Homo sapiens: one gene and its partners. The protein of the gene in region 1 purifies or fractionates together with the protein of each later gene. This does not show direct contact. Each region holds a gene or a part of one and is shown in the gene's direction. Other genes may lie near its edges.

Region 1 (4,136 bases):
CTCACTTCCTTTCCTGATGAGGGATTTTAAATTGCAGCCCCCTCACACCCACACCCTCACCCGGCTCCATCCCTGTCTTCTCTGCACCTCATCCCTGTCTCTGCCCTGGGGCTGCCTCCCTGCCAGACTTGGACAACAGGCCCTGAGAGCTGGCTCTGCTTGGTTCCCTGCTGTTTTGCTGTTGATTTCCAGTGCCCAAAGAGACCCAGCACACAGTAGGTGCCACGCAGGTGTCAGCCTTGAGGATTGCTAGTTACTGCCTTCCTCACTGGAGGAAGTGCCATGGGGGGCGCTGAGGTGAGAAAACGCCTTTGAAAAGGTCACACAGGCCAGGCAAGTGGCTCACACCTGTAATCCCAGCCCTTTGGGAGGTGGAGGCGGGCAGATCACCTTAGGTCAGGAGTTCGAGACCAACCTGGCCAACATGGTGAACTTGTCTCTACTAAAAATACAAAAAGCCGGGCGTGGTGGCAGGTATCAGTAATCCCAGCTACTCGGGAGGCTGAGGCAGGAGAATCGCTTGAACCCCGGAGGTAGAGGTTGCAATGAGCCCAGATCCAGCCACTGTACTCCAGCCTGAGCGACAGAGCGAGACAAAAAAAAAAAAAAAAAAAAAAAGGAAGAAAATAAAAAAGAAAAGGTCACAAGGACTCTCTGGGATGCCTGTGAATGCCTGGCACCAAGAGGCCTGGCTCACAGGTGCTCAACCAATGCTGCTGATCCGTGGATGAGGGCGTCCCCATAATCGTCATGTTCAAATCCTGGCTCCACCAGCTGCTCTCCTGACTGTGCCCCAGTTGGGCATGAGTGTCCTTCACAGAGGTGACACACCAGTTCATTCAGGTCAAGGGCGCAGAGCAGTCCTGGCAGCACACAGTAGGAGATTTATTGGAGCTCTGAGCCTGGCTGTGGTTGGCGGCTTCCCTGCAGGCCTGCCCCACCCGTGTAGCATGGCTGCCGCCCAGACCCGCCCGACGTCCCGCCCAGCCCAGCCGGCAGCAGCAGGGGGCAGGATTTCCCGCTGATCCCGGCGGTCCGTCCTCTGCAGTTTAAAAAGAGCCCAGCGGGGCTTAACCCTCCCGCGTCCGGCCGGCCTCCGATGCCCCCCGTCCCCTGTTCTGTGCGGAACTCCGGCTTTGGCCATCTGCCTACTTCTCTGAGCTTCAGTATCCTCATCTGTAAAACCGGTTCCCCTCATTTCAGGGTCAAAAATGAGCATTCAGTGAGCACAAGGAGCCCTCAGTCGCCAGGGGCATCCTCCCCCTCCCCGCGGCGGTGCCGTTTATCTGGCCAGGGGAGGTCCACCCGGGAGGAGGTGACTTTGCAGCCTCCAGCCGCTATCGCTTCCTGCCTTCATCTTGGGAACAGGCCGTGCTGTGCGCCAGCCCGGGGAGCCCACCGTCTGGGGAGGGGGGCGATTAAAAGGTCCCAACCTCCTCCCCAGGAGACCAAAGAGGTTGGACGGGGCCCCGGGTACTAGGCTGGGTGGGGGTTGGGCGCCTGGGCCGGTCGCAGTTGTCTGGGGGCCCTGGGGCTCTCTGCGTCGAGAGCGCTCGAAGACCCGGGATTCCTGGCCCGATCGCGGGCGGGGGGAGACCCCAGCTCCACCCCAGCTCCCGCCGGCTCGGGGAAGGGGCGGCCCCTTTAAGAGCGCGCGGCCCCGCCCGCCCCCTCCGGGCAGGATCCGAATTCCAGGGAGGCGGGGCGGAGACGGCGGCGAGGAGGAGGCCGCGGCGCGGGACGCATAGAGCTGCGGCTCGGGCGGCGCCTCCCTGCGGCGGCCCGGCCCGGCTCCGGCCCCCGCTGGGGCAATGCTCCCCGGGGCCGCGGGATGAGCCAGGTGAGCGCGGAGACCCCCAGCACTCCCTGCCTGGTGCGCATGGACGGGGGTGGGGAGGCGGGGCGGGAAGCGGCGTCCTCGGCCTCTGTTCCCCGGGGCTGTGTGACCTTGGGCGGCCCCGCACCCTCTCTGGGCCCAGAGCCCCAGCACCGGCAGGGCCTGCGGAGGCCGCTCTGAGTCCTGGCCCCGCAGGCACCGGCCTGGAGCGCTGGGGAGGCTTCTTGGAGGAGGCGGGGCCTGGCCCTGGCCCCGGATCGCCGAGACCGGCCACGCTGCGCCGCCTGGACGCCGGGCTCCTCCACCCACAGCTCTGCGACCTTCACGAGCTCGACCCTTTCTGCGCCTCAGTTTCCTCATCTATAAAATGGAGATAATGCCTCCGCGCGCTGAGCCCGAGCGCGGTCGTGCTGTTACACTATTGCTGCTGCTATGTCGTTAATGACGGCACAGCCCTTATGGAAGGGGGGCCAAGGAAGGCACGGGGACCTTCCCGCAGGACATGGGGTGGGCACCAGCCCTAAGCCATGCACATAACCCACTCTGAGGTCAGGACCTGGGTTCCTTTCGTGTCCACTGGGGGCCTTAGCCGTTGTCTTCACTTCTCTAGGTCCCAGCCCTTCACAATGGGCGCGCCTCCCTGCCTGAGAGGGAGGCCCCAGCCAAGCCCCAGTTTCCACCGCAAAAAGCCACACAGCAAACACTTAATGGACCCTAAATTTATAAAAATTATCCCATAGAGTCCTATGAGGCAGGGAATGTTACTGTACCCATTTCGCAGATGAGGAAACTTGGGGCACCGACATTTCCCAGAGCCAACATGTAAACCAGGCATTTGGCCTGAGTGACAGACTGGTGCAGGTGGCCAGCAGCTTAATTTGTACTGAGCGCTTACTGGGTCCCCACAGCGATCCTGAACTGTGTTCCTGCCCACAGTGACTCGGCCGGTCCGGGCATGGCAGACCCAGTGGCGGGCATCGCGGGCTCGGCGGCCAAGAGCGTGCGGCCATTTCGCTCCAGTGAGGCCTACGTGGAGGCCATGAAGGAGGACCTGGCCGAGTGGCTCAATGCCTTGTACGGCCTGGGTCTCCCGGGTGGTGGCGATGGCTTCCTGACAGGGCTGGCCACGGGCACGACCCTGTGCCAACATGCCAACGCCGTGACCGAGGCTGCCCGTGCATTGGCAGCCGCCCGCCCGGCCCGAGGTGTGGCCTTCCAGGCGCACAGTGTAGTGCCTGGCTCCTTCATGGCGCGCGACAACGTGGCCACCTTCATCGGCTGGTGCCGCGTGGAGCTGGGTGTGCCGGAGGTGCTCATGTTTGAGACTGAGGACCTGGTGCTGCGCAAGAACGAGAAGAGCGTGGTGCTGTGCCTGCTGGAGGTGGCGCGGCGTGGGGCACGCCTGGGCCTGCTGGCCCCACGCCTCGTGCAGTTTGAGCAGGAGATTGAGCGGGAGCTGCGTGCTGCACCCCCAGCCCCCAACGCCCCTGCCGCTGGGGAGGACACCACTGAAACCGCCCCCGCACCAGGGACTCCTGCCCGCGGCCCCCGCATGACACCCAGCGACCTGCGCAACCTCGACGAGCTGGTGAGTCCCCCAGCACCAGGTGCCAGGGACCCGACAGCACAGCCAGTGCCTGCAATCTGTCCCTGAACCTCCCAGGGTCCACCCTGCTATCTGCAGAACAGTCTGCCCCACAAAAAGAGTGCACATGTTGAGCACCAAACCGAGGAATGTATACCTGACCCCAAGGAAATGGGTAGCCCACAGAGAGGGAGGTGCCGGGGAGATGACGCAGCCCAGCCGGGCCTGGGACAGGATGCGGGCTCCTGGCACGATCTTCCCTCACTTTGTGTGCTAACTGTGCCTCAACTGAGCTTGTGCATTCCTTCTTCTGGGGGGCCGCATGATCGGGGCGCCTCCTCTGTGCCCTCCCTGCAGTCAGTCTTAGGCAGATGTACCCACAACCTCATGGAGGCTCGAGGTTGAGCGGGTGCTGTGATGCTCGGTTGAGACGAGGCATGGAAAAACCTGGGCAAGGTGCCTGGCACACAGTAGGTGCCCCAGGGGGCTCTGCAGGTCTCCCCACTCCCCAGGCACCCCTGGGAAGCCTAGCTGGGTTGCTGCTGTTGCTGGGAGCAGGGATCCTGTTTGGAATTACAGGATTCGTTCTACTCTAAGCATAGGCGTTGCTGGGCCCTGCCCCCAAGTCTCTCCTCTCCCAGGATCTGGGTGGCCCCTGCCACCCCTGAGGGCTGGACCAAGAGTTTCCTTCTTATCAGAAGGTCAGGACTACAA
Region 2 (3,500 bases), 9.5 Mb from region 1:
GTGTCTGAGTCTGCGTGTGTGTATGTGTATGTAGGTATGAGTGTGTGCCTGTGTGTGTGCATGTGTGTGTGTGCACATATGGGTGTGTGAACATGTATGTGTAGGCATGTGTCCTATGTGTGGGTTTTGCATGTGTCTGTGTGCACCATGTGCATGTGTGTGTATGTGTGAGCATAGCGTGTGTCTAATGTGTGTTCGTGCCTGGACTGCACAGGGGAGCCTGTGTAGAGGTGACCTGTCAGGCTCTGCTTCCTGGACTGGAGTCATGGGAGGGACCCTCCATCCTGGACTCGGTGCTTTCCTGCTAGGTGGAGGTGCTTTTGCCGGGTCTGCATTCTTTGGCTCCTCTTGGAGCTGGGCCCTGCCTTCCTGTCCCCCTGGCTAGCTTGCCTTTCTTACCTGGCAGGCATAGCACAAACAGGCAGTGGCTTCTGAGAACTGTCCTCCAAGCCAGCCCGCTGAGGGCAGCTGTTCCAGCCCCCGGCCTGGCTGCGTCTTCAGGAGTCTTGGAGTCTTCCCCATCACAGGCTGGAGCAGGGGCCGTGGGTCTTGGGAGCAGTGTGGGGTCTGGTCCCTCTGCCTCCCCTGGAAGCCACCCTTAAGTTTGGGCATGATCAGTTGGCTTTCAGCCAAAGGTGAGAGAGGACGAAACCTCTCTCATCCCCCTCAAAAAAGAAAAGGAAAAATGGGACTTGGCAGTTAGTAAAGGATATCCCAGGGAACTCCGCATTGTCTTCGGAACCCCTTGAGAGAGGCAGGGTTGGGAGGTAGAGTGGCTGCCCGAGGTCTCTCGCCAGGCAGGGTGGACCTGCGCCCTGGAGTCACTGCCCGGCCCCTCCCAGGCCTCCTGCCCTCCCCCATGCCGCCCGCTTGGGCACTGGCTGCTGTCCACCCTCCACTCTGCAGGACACCTTGGCAGGGGCATTTCTCAGGTGTTTTGAACCTTTGCCCCAGCTCTGAATAGAGTAAGGAGAGGGCTGGCGTGTATTCAGAAGGGGAGAGGCAGGGCTTGGCGGTGGCAGTGCTGCTGAAGGGGCACCCTGGACAGCTGCCTCCAGACATCCACAGCACTCCTGCCTCTGAACCTGCACCCCCATCCGCCTACCACCCAGCCCCTTCTGAAGAGTCCTTCCCATCTCCCCTGCCCTGGTCCTTTACTGGCCCCAGTCCCTCTGCTGGCTGTGGCTGCCGTGGGCCATCCTCCCTGCCTTGTGTGCAGGCTGCAGGTGGCTGGGCCGGGGCCTGCCCCACTGTCCCAGAGCCCAGTGGGAAAGGCCCCCTGTGACAGGCTGCCCCAGCCACCCAGTGGTCTGCTCCTGGCCTTTCCCTCTGAGCCCTTAGCCCAGCTCAGGGTCTGCAGGCAGACAGACATGGAGCTGGTCGCTTCTGGCTCCAGGGCCACCCCACAGAGCAGCCAGCTGTGGGGCTGAGGTGGAGTGCGAGGCCCTGTGGGTCTGAGTGGTTGGAAGGGCTCGGCACGGACCCGGGAAGCCTCTCTGGGTGGGTGGTGGCCCGGCAGTCTTCCCCCACAGGCCCAGTGGTCTGGGGAACAGCTGCTCATCTGTGACCGCAGCTCTCCTAAGGAGCCGCACGGCGACTCTGCCCCAGCCACTCTGCCCTTCAGTGGTGCCATGAGGCCCTAGAGTACTTCAGGCCTCAGCGCCAGGGGCCTGGTGCAGCTCAGTGACTATTCTCTGCCTCGGTTTCCCCAAGAGTGAAAAGGGTGCTGCCGCCTTATAGGGTGGTGATAGCGGTTAGAAATTGTGGCGGGGCAGGCCTGGGGCCCAGCAGATGTGAGAGGAAGGCTCCTCCTAGCAGCCCCCCGGGACCCTGTGTGCCTCTTTTCCCCTGATCCCTGAGCTGGCCATGGGCAGAGGTGGCAGCAGGGAGGAGAGAAGAAGGGAGACTGGATTTGCCAGCAGGGAGGGAGGGTGGCTCCCAAGAGAGACACTGGAGTGAGCCCTGGACAGAGGGCGGGACTCAGCCAAGCCCAGTGGCAGGACCGGCAGTCCCGGCATGCAGATGGCCAGAGTGGGAAAGCACTGGTGTGGCCCCTGGGATCTGGGGAGCCAGAGGGCACAGCCAGTGGTGGACAGGAAGCCCTGGAGGCCAGAGTGGCCGAGGAAGTGTTGGATGCCGCTGTGCCCACTCAGGGATGGCTCAGGTGGGGCCCAAGCGGGTGCACCAGTCAGGTGCAGAGGCCAACAGGCACGGTGCGAGGAGGGCTGGCATCCATGGGGCTCCCAGTTCCCCCAGCAGTGGGGGAAGGGTGAGCTCTGTGCTCTCTGCTGGGCTCACCGCCGTGCAGGGAACTGGTGCCTCTGTAGCCACAGGCCGTTCATCAGTGTCTGGGGAGCAGTGGCACCTCTCTCCCAGGAGGGGCACAGGGCCAGAGACAATGAGCAGGGGCAACATCTCAAGCACCCCTGTGCCTGAGCAGCCTTCCTAGAGGGTGAGAATAGGGACGCAGTCACTCACACGCCCTCCCTTGGTGCCCAGGTAACTGCATCCTGCCCAGCATGACGGCCCCCTGCCCGCCGCCACCTCCAGACCCCCAGTTTGTCCTCCGAGGCACCCAGTCACCGGTGCATGCGCTGCACTTCTGCGAAGGAGCCCAGGCTCAGGGGCGCCCGCTCCTCTTCTCAGGGTGAGTAGCTGTGGCCCCAGCCCCAGGCCACCCAGGGCCAAGTCAGGAGGTCGTGAGCTAGCAAGGAGCCCAGCGCTTGTTTGAGGGTGCTGGCCAAGGGGCATGGACTGCTCGCCACCCAGGCTTGCTGAGCTTTCAGCACCCACCAGCAGACACACTGTCCCTTGGGGGAGGCAGGGACACACACACACACTCTTTGTTACAGACGCAGGAGCAGGCACGACCACCCAGCGTGCATTACTGTGGCATGGCTCCCCCTACCTCCAGAGAAGCAGATCTGCCTGAGTTACCCCTAGAGGCTCCTGAGGGTCCCCCGGTCCCCTCTCTGGAAGAGGAGCAAGGAGTGCTTTGCCAGTTTGGCCCTTAGTTCATATTTAGAGCTGTTGGCTTTTCAGCTCAACCAGCCTAGATGCCCGCATCCCACAATGTGGCCTCCAGGCTGGCCCCAGAGCATTCAGCACACCCTTCTGCCCCCTGACACCCTGCTCGGCTTGTCTGAAACAGGTCTCAGAGTGGCCTGGTACACATCTGGAGCCTGCAGACGCGGAGAGCGGTTACCACCCTGGATGGCCACGGCGGCCAGTGTGTGACCTGGCTGCAGACGCTGCCCCAGGGGCGCCAGCTCCTCAGGTGGGTCTCCAAGGTGCAGGAGCCAGGTATGGCCTTCGGGGGAGTCAGGAACTCTCTGATGGAGGCTCTGGTGTCCCCCACTGAGGGGCAGAATGGGGTGGGGGAACCAGAAGGGGCCAGCAAAGGGTCCGCAGCAAGGGCAGGGTGTGCAGGTCCAGCCCCTTGTCACAGGGAGGCAGGCAGGTCTGCCTCTGCATCTCCACCATCTCCACTGGACCCTTCA
Region 3 (3,500 bases), on another chromosome or scaffold:
TCCTTTTAAAATATGTCAGATCATGCCACTTCTCTGATAAAAACTTTCCAAGGGTGTCTTGTATCACTCCGTAAAACCCAAGTCCTTAAACAAGCTACAAGACCCTCAATGATCTGGTAATGATCTCCTTGTTTATAAATAACATACATATGTATTACACATTAGTTTATCAATTGCAGATGCTGTCAGCTGGCTCCTGCATTGAAGGACGGGACTTGGTGTGCATGGGCCCAGTTCAGGCCAGCTCCCTACTTTCCTTCTCTGCATCACACTATAGTTCATTGTAGTGTGGGGCTAAATGAATATTCACTGGCAGGACAGACTGCTTAAGAATATGGGTGCTAGAATCAGATTTCCTGGGTTCAAATCCTGATTCTGTCCCTTATACCATGACTTAGGGCAAGTTACTTATCAACTTTGTGCCTCAGTTCCCCCATAGGTAAGATGGGAAAGTTTTAGGAGTATACTTCACCCAGGGCAGTTATGAGGGTAAATGAGATCTTTCACAAAAAGACCTCTGAACAATGACTGTCACATAGTAAATGCTCAGTAAATGCTGGTGATGATGATGATCTTGCCAGCTGTGTAAATAATGTCAATTGCAGAGCCAAGCAGTGTACTATAATCTTTCTTTCCTTATACAACTTTCTGCTTCTTCTAGAGTTAATGATTTATTTTCTTTTTCATTGCTCATCTGCCTACATATCTAGCTTATCTATCTATATATCTACATATCTCCATAAAGTTTTCAATAGAACCCATCAAAATGCTATGTTCTATATGATTAAACAAAGCAGATAATCTATCAATTCCATTTTATTCTCCCATGGAAATCTACCCACTAGAGACCTCTGTCCTCTAGATCCAGTCTGGTCTGGATGTTCTCCTCAGGGTTTCCTGCACCTGCCATTCCCTCTGCCACCATTCTGAGAATTTCTTTTACCCCCTTTTTATTGTTGTTGTTAGGTCCCTATTTTCTGGATTCCATATTATCTGCCTTCTTGGATTGCTGTCTTATTTTGCTGGAACACATCCTTCAGTAGCTTTCGGAGCAAGAATGCCTTTTCTAAGTATTCACATGTCTGAAAATGTCTTTATTCTACATTCATACTTGATTGATACTTTGGTTGTGTATAGAGTTCTAGGTTAAAAATAATTTTCCAAAAAATGATGAACTCTGTGTCTTCTTTGACATAATTTCCAGTAAGTATTGTTAATTGGAAAAAGTAATATACAGAAAATAAAGATAGCATGCTGTTCCTTGTGTGAGAAAGGCTGCAATTTTCCTGCATTTGAATAAAAATCACTGGCAGAACACAATGAAAGGAGTGTGGGGATGGAGGTGGAAGCAGGTTGTCAAGTGCCACTCTTCATGCTCTTGATATTTGAACCATGTGACTGTATTAACTAGTCAATAAAATAAACTAATAAATATCAAAAAAGTAAAATTAGGAGCCAGGCATTATGGCTCACACCTGTAATTCCAGCAACTCAGGAGGCTAAGGTGAAAGAATAGCTTAGGACCAAGAGTTCAAGTCCAGCTTGGGCAACAAAGTAGGACCCTTCCTTTAAAAATATATTTTTTTTATTTAGCTGGGCATGGTGATGCATGCCTGTAGTCCTAGCTATTTGGGAATCTGAGGCAGGAGCATCGCTTAAGCCCAGGAGTTCAAGACCAGCCTGGGCAACATAGTGAGACCCCCATCTCCACAAAAAAGAAAAGAAAAAGTGAGTGGGTGTGGTGGCTCATACCTGTAATTCCAACAATTTGGGAGGGCAGTGAGTGGATCACTTGAGCTCAGGAGTTTGAGACCAGTCTGGGCAACATGGTGAAATCCCTTCTGTACTAAAAATACAAAAATTAGCCAAGCATGATGGCTTGTGCCTATGGTCCCAGCTAGTTGGGAGGCTGAGGTGGGAGGATCACTTGAGCCCAGGGGACAGAGGTTGCAGTGAGCTGAGATCACACCCCTGCACTCCAGCCTGGGTTGACAGAGCAAAACTCTGTCTCAAAAAAAAAAAAAAAAAATTTAAAAGAAAAAGTTTGGAAACTTTTAGGATCTTCTCTTTATTCTCAGAATTCTGGATTTTTCCCCCACTTATTGAGCATTCATTGGGTTCATTCAATCTGGAAACTTGTATCCTAAAATTCTGGGAAATTTTCTTGAATTTTTTCCTAGCCCCATCATTTTTTCTGTTCTGTCTTACAGTAATTTCTGTAAGACAGAACAGAAAAAGAAGTAATTTTTCATTTTCCTTTCTTTTCTTTTTTTTTTTTTTTTGTCTTTTGGTAATACTTCAAGGAAGATTCTTCAACTTTACCATCCACTCCCTCTACTAAGTTTACCTGTTTTATATTGAATTGCTAAGTTTTTTTATTGTTCTTTATCTCTATAGCATCCTTTCTTGACTCACTAATGCAGTACCTTTTCTTACTACTCTAAGGATATTAAGCAAATTCACTTAATTTGGGGGTTTTCCTGAAAATTTTTTTGTTCCCTGCATCCTGGTCTGTTTCTTTTCCTCCTTTGTGTGTTTTGGCCTCTGTCATCTTGGAGCCTTTCTCAGATGTGTGGTGATCCTCAGCTACCCTTTCATATTTTAGAGGGAGGCACTAAACATGGTGACTACAATTTGAGCAAAGGCCAGGAAGAGAGATGTCACAAAGTGTGAACAGGAAGCCACACAGGGCGGCTGAAGTGTTGGTACCAGACAGTGGTTCCTCAGGCAGGGGCAAGCAGCTCTGATTTGAACCCAGTCTCTTGCCTTTGAGGCCAGTGCCCTTGACCACCATGTCAGTGTTAGGAGGAAACATTGCTTAATGTTAACCAGTCAGACTTCTCTAATTTGGTGCCTGCAGGTGGAGTTTTGTTTTTGATTAAGGGACTAGTAAGGCTGGAAAAGAAAGTTGAAAATTAATCTGAGACATACACCAGGGAAGAACGGCTAACCTCTAGTGTCTACACAGCTCAAACAAAGGAACCCATCATTATGGTATTCTTTTACTGAGAGCGAAATAAAATGTCAAATTAGCTGAGCAAATAAAGATAGTAAAACAAAAAAATATGAGATTTTCATAGCTTCAGGCATCAAGAATTGGGCTGGGCATGGTGTCTTGTGCCTGTAATCCCAGCACTTTGGGAGACCAAGGCGGGTGGATCACCTGAGGTCAGATGTTTGAGACCAGCCTAACCAATATGGTGAAACCCCATCTCTACTAAAAATACAGAAATTAGCCAGATGTGGTGGCTTGCACCTGTAGTCTCAGCTACTCGGGGGGCTGAGGCAGGAGAATTGCTTGAACCCAGGAGGCAGAGGTTGCAGTGAGCCAAGATCACACCACTGCACGCCATCCTGGGCAGCAGAGCGAGACTCCATCTCAAAAAGAGAAAAAGAAGAAGACAAAAAGCAAAGGAATAATTCATTTATTTGCTTGGAAAGTTCTCTAAGATCTGAGATATACTTTCCATAAAACAAATAAAATACCTGGAGAGTTTAGG
Region 4 (3,500 bases), on another chromosome or scaffold:
TCACTTGTTATAAGAATTCCCTCAAGCATCACAGTTTTTCCCATATTTGTAATGAGTGGCCCATAAGTAAAGATCTCTTTTTAAAGTGTAATTTTATATTGAGCAAACAGCTTGATGTGCGTATTTTCATAAAGTCATAGAATGTTAAAGTTGGGTGGAAACTCAAATCACTTAAGTCAGGAGATAGGAACTACTTGTCCAATATCACAGAGCTCTTCCGTGTTGGGGTCAAGATCCTGTGGACTCCTGGGTCTGTGCTCTTTATACCTCCTTTAAACGTAGCATCTCATTTATTGTTTTTATTTTTTGTGCCAACTTTCTGGTATATCCTGATCTGTACTGTCTAAGACCAGTGTTTCTCTGCATAAGGTCTAGGAATTGTGCATAGTGAGAGCTCTGACCTTCTTGTAGAACTTAAAATGCTCGCTTATTACATTGCATTGTGTGCAATGCTGTGAATTACATATATCCCCATTGTATGGATTAATAAACTGAAGCACAGAGAGTTACTGTTATTTGCTCAAAATCCCACAGCTGGTAAGTGATGAGGCTAGAGCTCAAAGTCTGGTTTTCTAATCACCAAAATGCTTTTTCTAGTCCGCTAGGCTGCGAAGGCATGAGAAGAACCAGAGTACAAACTTAAAATGTGAAGAGAAAGGGTGGAGAAATTAACAGCAGGAATGTGGAATGGTGAATTTGGAAGAAGCCTAGGAAGAGACACCAGCCCAGCTTTCCTTTTTCCAGGACGTCTTTTCTTGCTTCCACCGCCATCTTGCCATCCTCACTTTCACAGTCTCCAGTACTGTGCCGTGTGAGTGACAGGGGCCTGACATAATTGTGGCAGGGACAGCCATCACCTCACTCTCCCTGCGCATCTAAACTATCCCTAGGCGTGGGTTCCTAGCTGGACCCAGTAGACAATGTACTTGTCTAACAAAGTATAGCTCTTCGGAAGCTTGACCCTAGGCCATCAATATTAGATCTGGACTCTCATCCAGCTACTTTATTGGGATAAAATGAATACTAAAGTCTCCAGGACAGGAACTTTGTTTCTTAAAATTTATCTTTGTAGTTTCATCACCTGTATTACCCTCCTAGGTCTGCTGTAATAAAGTACCACAAACTGGGTGGCTTTAAAACAACGAGATGTCTTCTTCCACAGTTCTGGAAGCCAGAAGTCTGAAATCCAGATGCCAGCAGGGTTGGTTCCTCTTGAAGTCTTCATGGAGAATCTGTTCCTTGCCTTTCTTCTGGTTTCCCGTGGTGGCCAACGATGCTCAGCCTTCCTTGGCTATAGACACATCATCTGGTCTCTGCCTTCATCTTCACAGGGCATTCTTTCCTGTGTGTGTCTATACGTCTTCTTATAAGGACAACAGTCTTGTTGGATTAGGGGCCACTCTAATCCAATATGACTTCATCTTAACTTGATAACATCTGCAAAGACCCTATTTTTATTTTTATTTATTTATTTATTTTTTTTTTCCTTTCTTTTTTTTTTTTTTTATTATACTCTAAGTTTTAGGGTACATGTGCACATTGTGCAGGTTAGTTACATATGTATACATGTGCCATGCTGGTGCACTGCACCCACTAATGTGTCATCTAGCATTAGGTATATCTCCCAATGCTATCCCTCCCCCCTCCCCCCGACCCCACCACAGTCCCCAGAGTGTGATATTCCCCTTCCTGTGTCCATGTGATCTCATTGTTCAATTCCCACCTATGAGTGAGAATATGCGGTGTTAGGTTTTTTGTTCTTGCGATAGTTTACTGAGAATGATGGTTTCCAATTTCATCCATGTCCCTACAAAGGATATGAACTCATCATTTTTTATGGCTGCATAGTATTCCATGGTGTATATGTGCCACATTTTCTTAATCCAGTCTATCATTGTTGGACATTTGGGTTGGTTCCAAGTCTTTGCTATTGTGAATAGTGCCGCAATAAACATACGTGTGCATGTGTCTTTATAGCAGCATGATTTATAGTCCTTTGGGTATATACCCAGTAATGGGATGGCTGGGTCAAATGGTATTTCTAGTTCTAGATCCCTGAGGAATCGCCACACTGACTTCCACAATGGTTGAACTAGTTTACAGTCCCACCAACAGTGTAAAAGTGTTCCTATTTCTCCACATCCTCTCCAGCACCTGTTGTTTCCTGACTTTTTAATGATTGCCATTCTAACTGGTGTGAGATGATATCTCATAGTGGTTTTGATTTGCATTTCTCTGATGGCCAGTGATGATGAGCATTTCTTCATGTGTTTTTTGGCTGCATAAATGTCTTCTTTTGAGAAGTGTCTGTTCATGTCCTTCGCCCACTTTTTGATGGGGTTGTTTGTTTTTTTCTTGTAAATTTGTTTGAGTTCATTGTAGATTCTGGATATTAGCCCTTTGTCAGATGAGTAGGTTGCGAAAATTTTCTCCCATGTTGTAGGTTGCCTGTTCACTCTGATGGTAGTTTCTTTTGCTGTGCAGAAGCTCTTTAGTTTAATTAGATCCCATTTGTCAATTTTGGCTTTTGTTGCCATTGCTTTTGGTGTTTTGGACATGAAGTCCTTGCCCACGCCTATGTCCTGAATGGTAATGCCTAGGTTTTCTTCTAGGGTTTTTATGGTTTTAGGTCTAACGTTTAAATCTTTAATCCATCTTGAATTGATTTTTGTATAAGGTGTAAGGAAGGGATCCAGTTTCAGCTTTCTACATATGGCTAGCCAGTTTTCCCAGCACCATTTATTAAATAGGGAATCCTTTCCCCATTGCTTGTTTTTCTCAGGTTTGTCAAAGATCAGATAGTTGTAGATATGCGGCATTATTTCTGAGGGCTCTGTTCTGTTCCATTGATCTATATCTCTGTTTTGGTACCAGTACCATGCTGTTTTGGTTACTGTAGCCTTGTAGTATAGTTTGAAGTCAGGTAGTGTGATGCCTCCAGCTTTGTTCTTTTGGCTTAGGATTGACTTGGCGATGCGGGCTCTTTTTTGGTTCCATATGAACTTTAAAGTAGTTTTTTCCAATTCTGTGAAGAAAGTCATTGGTAGCTTGATGGGGATGGCATTGAATCTGTAAATTACCTTGGGCAGTATGGCCATTTTCACGATATTGATTCTTCCTACCCATGAGCATGGAATGTTCTTCCATTTGTTTGTGTCCTCTTTTATTTCCTTGAGCAGTGGTTTGTAGTTCTCCTTGAAGAGGTCCTTCACATCCCTTGTAAGTTGGATTCCTAGGTATTTTATTCTCTTTGAAGCAATTGTGAATGGGAGTTCACCCATGATTTGGCTCTCTGTTTGTCTGTTGTTGGTGTATAAGAATGCTTGTGATTTTTGTACATTGATTTTGTATCCTGAGACTTTGCTGAAGTTGCTTATCAGCTTAAGGAGATTTTGGGCTGAGACGATGGGGTTTTCTAGATAAACAATCATGTCGTCTGCAAACAGGGACAATTTGACTTCCTCTTTTCCTAATTGAATACCCTTTATTTCCTTCTCCTG

The links. Proteins that work in one complex are often made in the same cells at the same time.
Region 2: the proteins of GAS2L1 (region 1) and GNB1L purify together in Homo sapiens (affinity purification with mass spectrometry; 3 studies listed by BioGRID and IntAct, with this or other methods). This does not show direct contact.
Region 3: the proteins of GAS2L1 (region 1) and LRRFIP1 purify together in Homo sapiens (affinity purification with mass spectrometry; 2 studies listed by BioGRID and IntAct, with this or other methods). This does not show direct contact.
Region 4: the proteins of GAS2L1 (region 1) and PRMT8 purify together in Homo sapiens (co-immunoprecipitation; one large-scale study listed by IntAct). This does not show direct contact.

Annotation. Positions count from the first base shown.
Region 1 is NC_000022.11:29,305,314-29,309,449, forward strand, and holds the start of GAS2L1 (GAS2-like protein 1), read left to right. Parts: upstream 1-1,336; 5' UTR 1,337-1,840; exon of another isoform or gene 1,841-2,773; 5' UTR 2,774-2,792; coding exon 2,793-3,425; intron 3,426-4,136. UniProt on the Homo sapiens protein: Involved in the cross-linking of microtubules and microfilaments. Regulates microtubule dynamics and stability by interacting with microtubule plus-end tracking proteins, such as MAPRE1, to regulate microtubule growth along actin stress fibers.
Region 2 is NC_000022.11:19,820,375-19,823,874, reverse strand, and holds part of GNB1L (guanine nucleotide-binding protein subunit beta-like protein 1), read left to right. Parts: intron 1-2,499; 5' UTR 2,500-2,519; coding exon 2,520-2,647; intron 2,648-3,151; coding exon 3,152-3,277; intron 3,278-3,500. UniProt on the Homo sapiens protein: Acts as a critical regulator of DNA damage response (DDR) signaling via specifically regulating phosphatidylinositol 3-kinase-related protein kinase (PIKK) family proteins.
Region 3 is NC_000002.12:237,634,087-237,637,586, forward strand, and holds part of LRRFIP1 (leucine-rich repeat flightless-interacting protein 1), read left to right. Parts: intron 1-3,500.
Region 4 is NC_000012.12:3,497,703-3,501,202, forward strand, and holds part of PRMT8 (protein arginine N-methyltransferase 8), read left to right. Parts: intron 1-3,500. UniProt on the Homo sapiens protein: S-adenosyl-L-methionine-dependent and membrane-associated arginine methyltransferase that can both catalyze the formation of omega-N monomethylarginine (MMA) and asymmetrical dimethylarginine (aDMA) in proteins such as NIFK, myelin basic protein, histone H4, H2A and H2A/H2B dimer.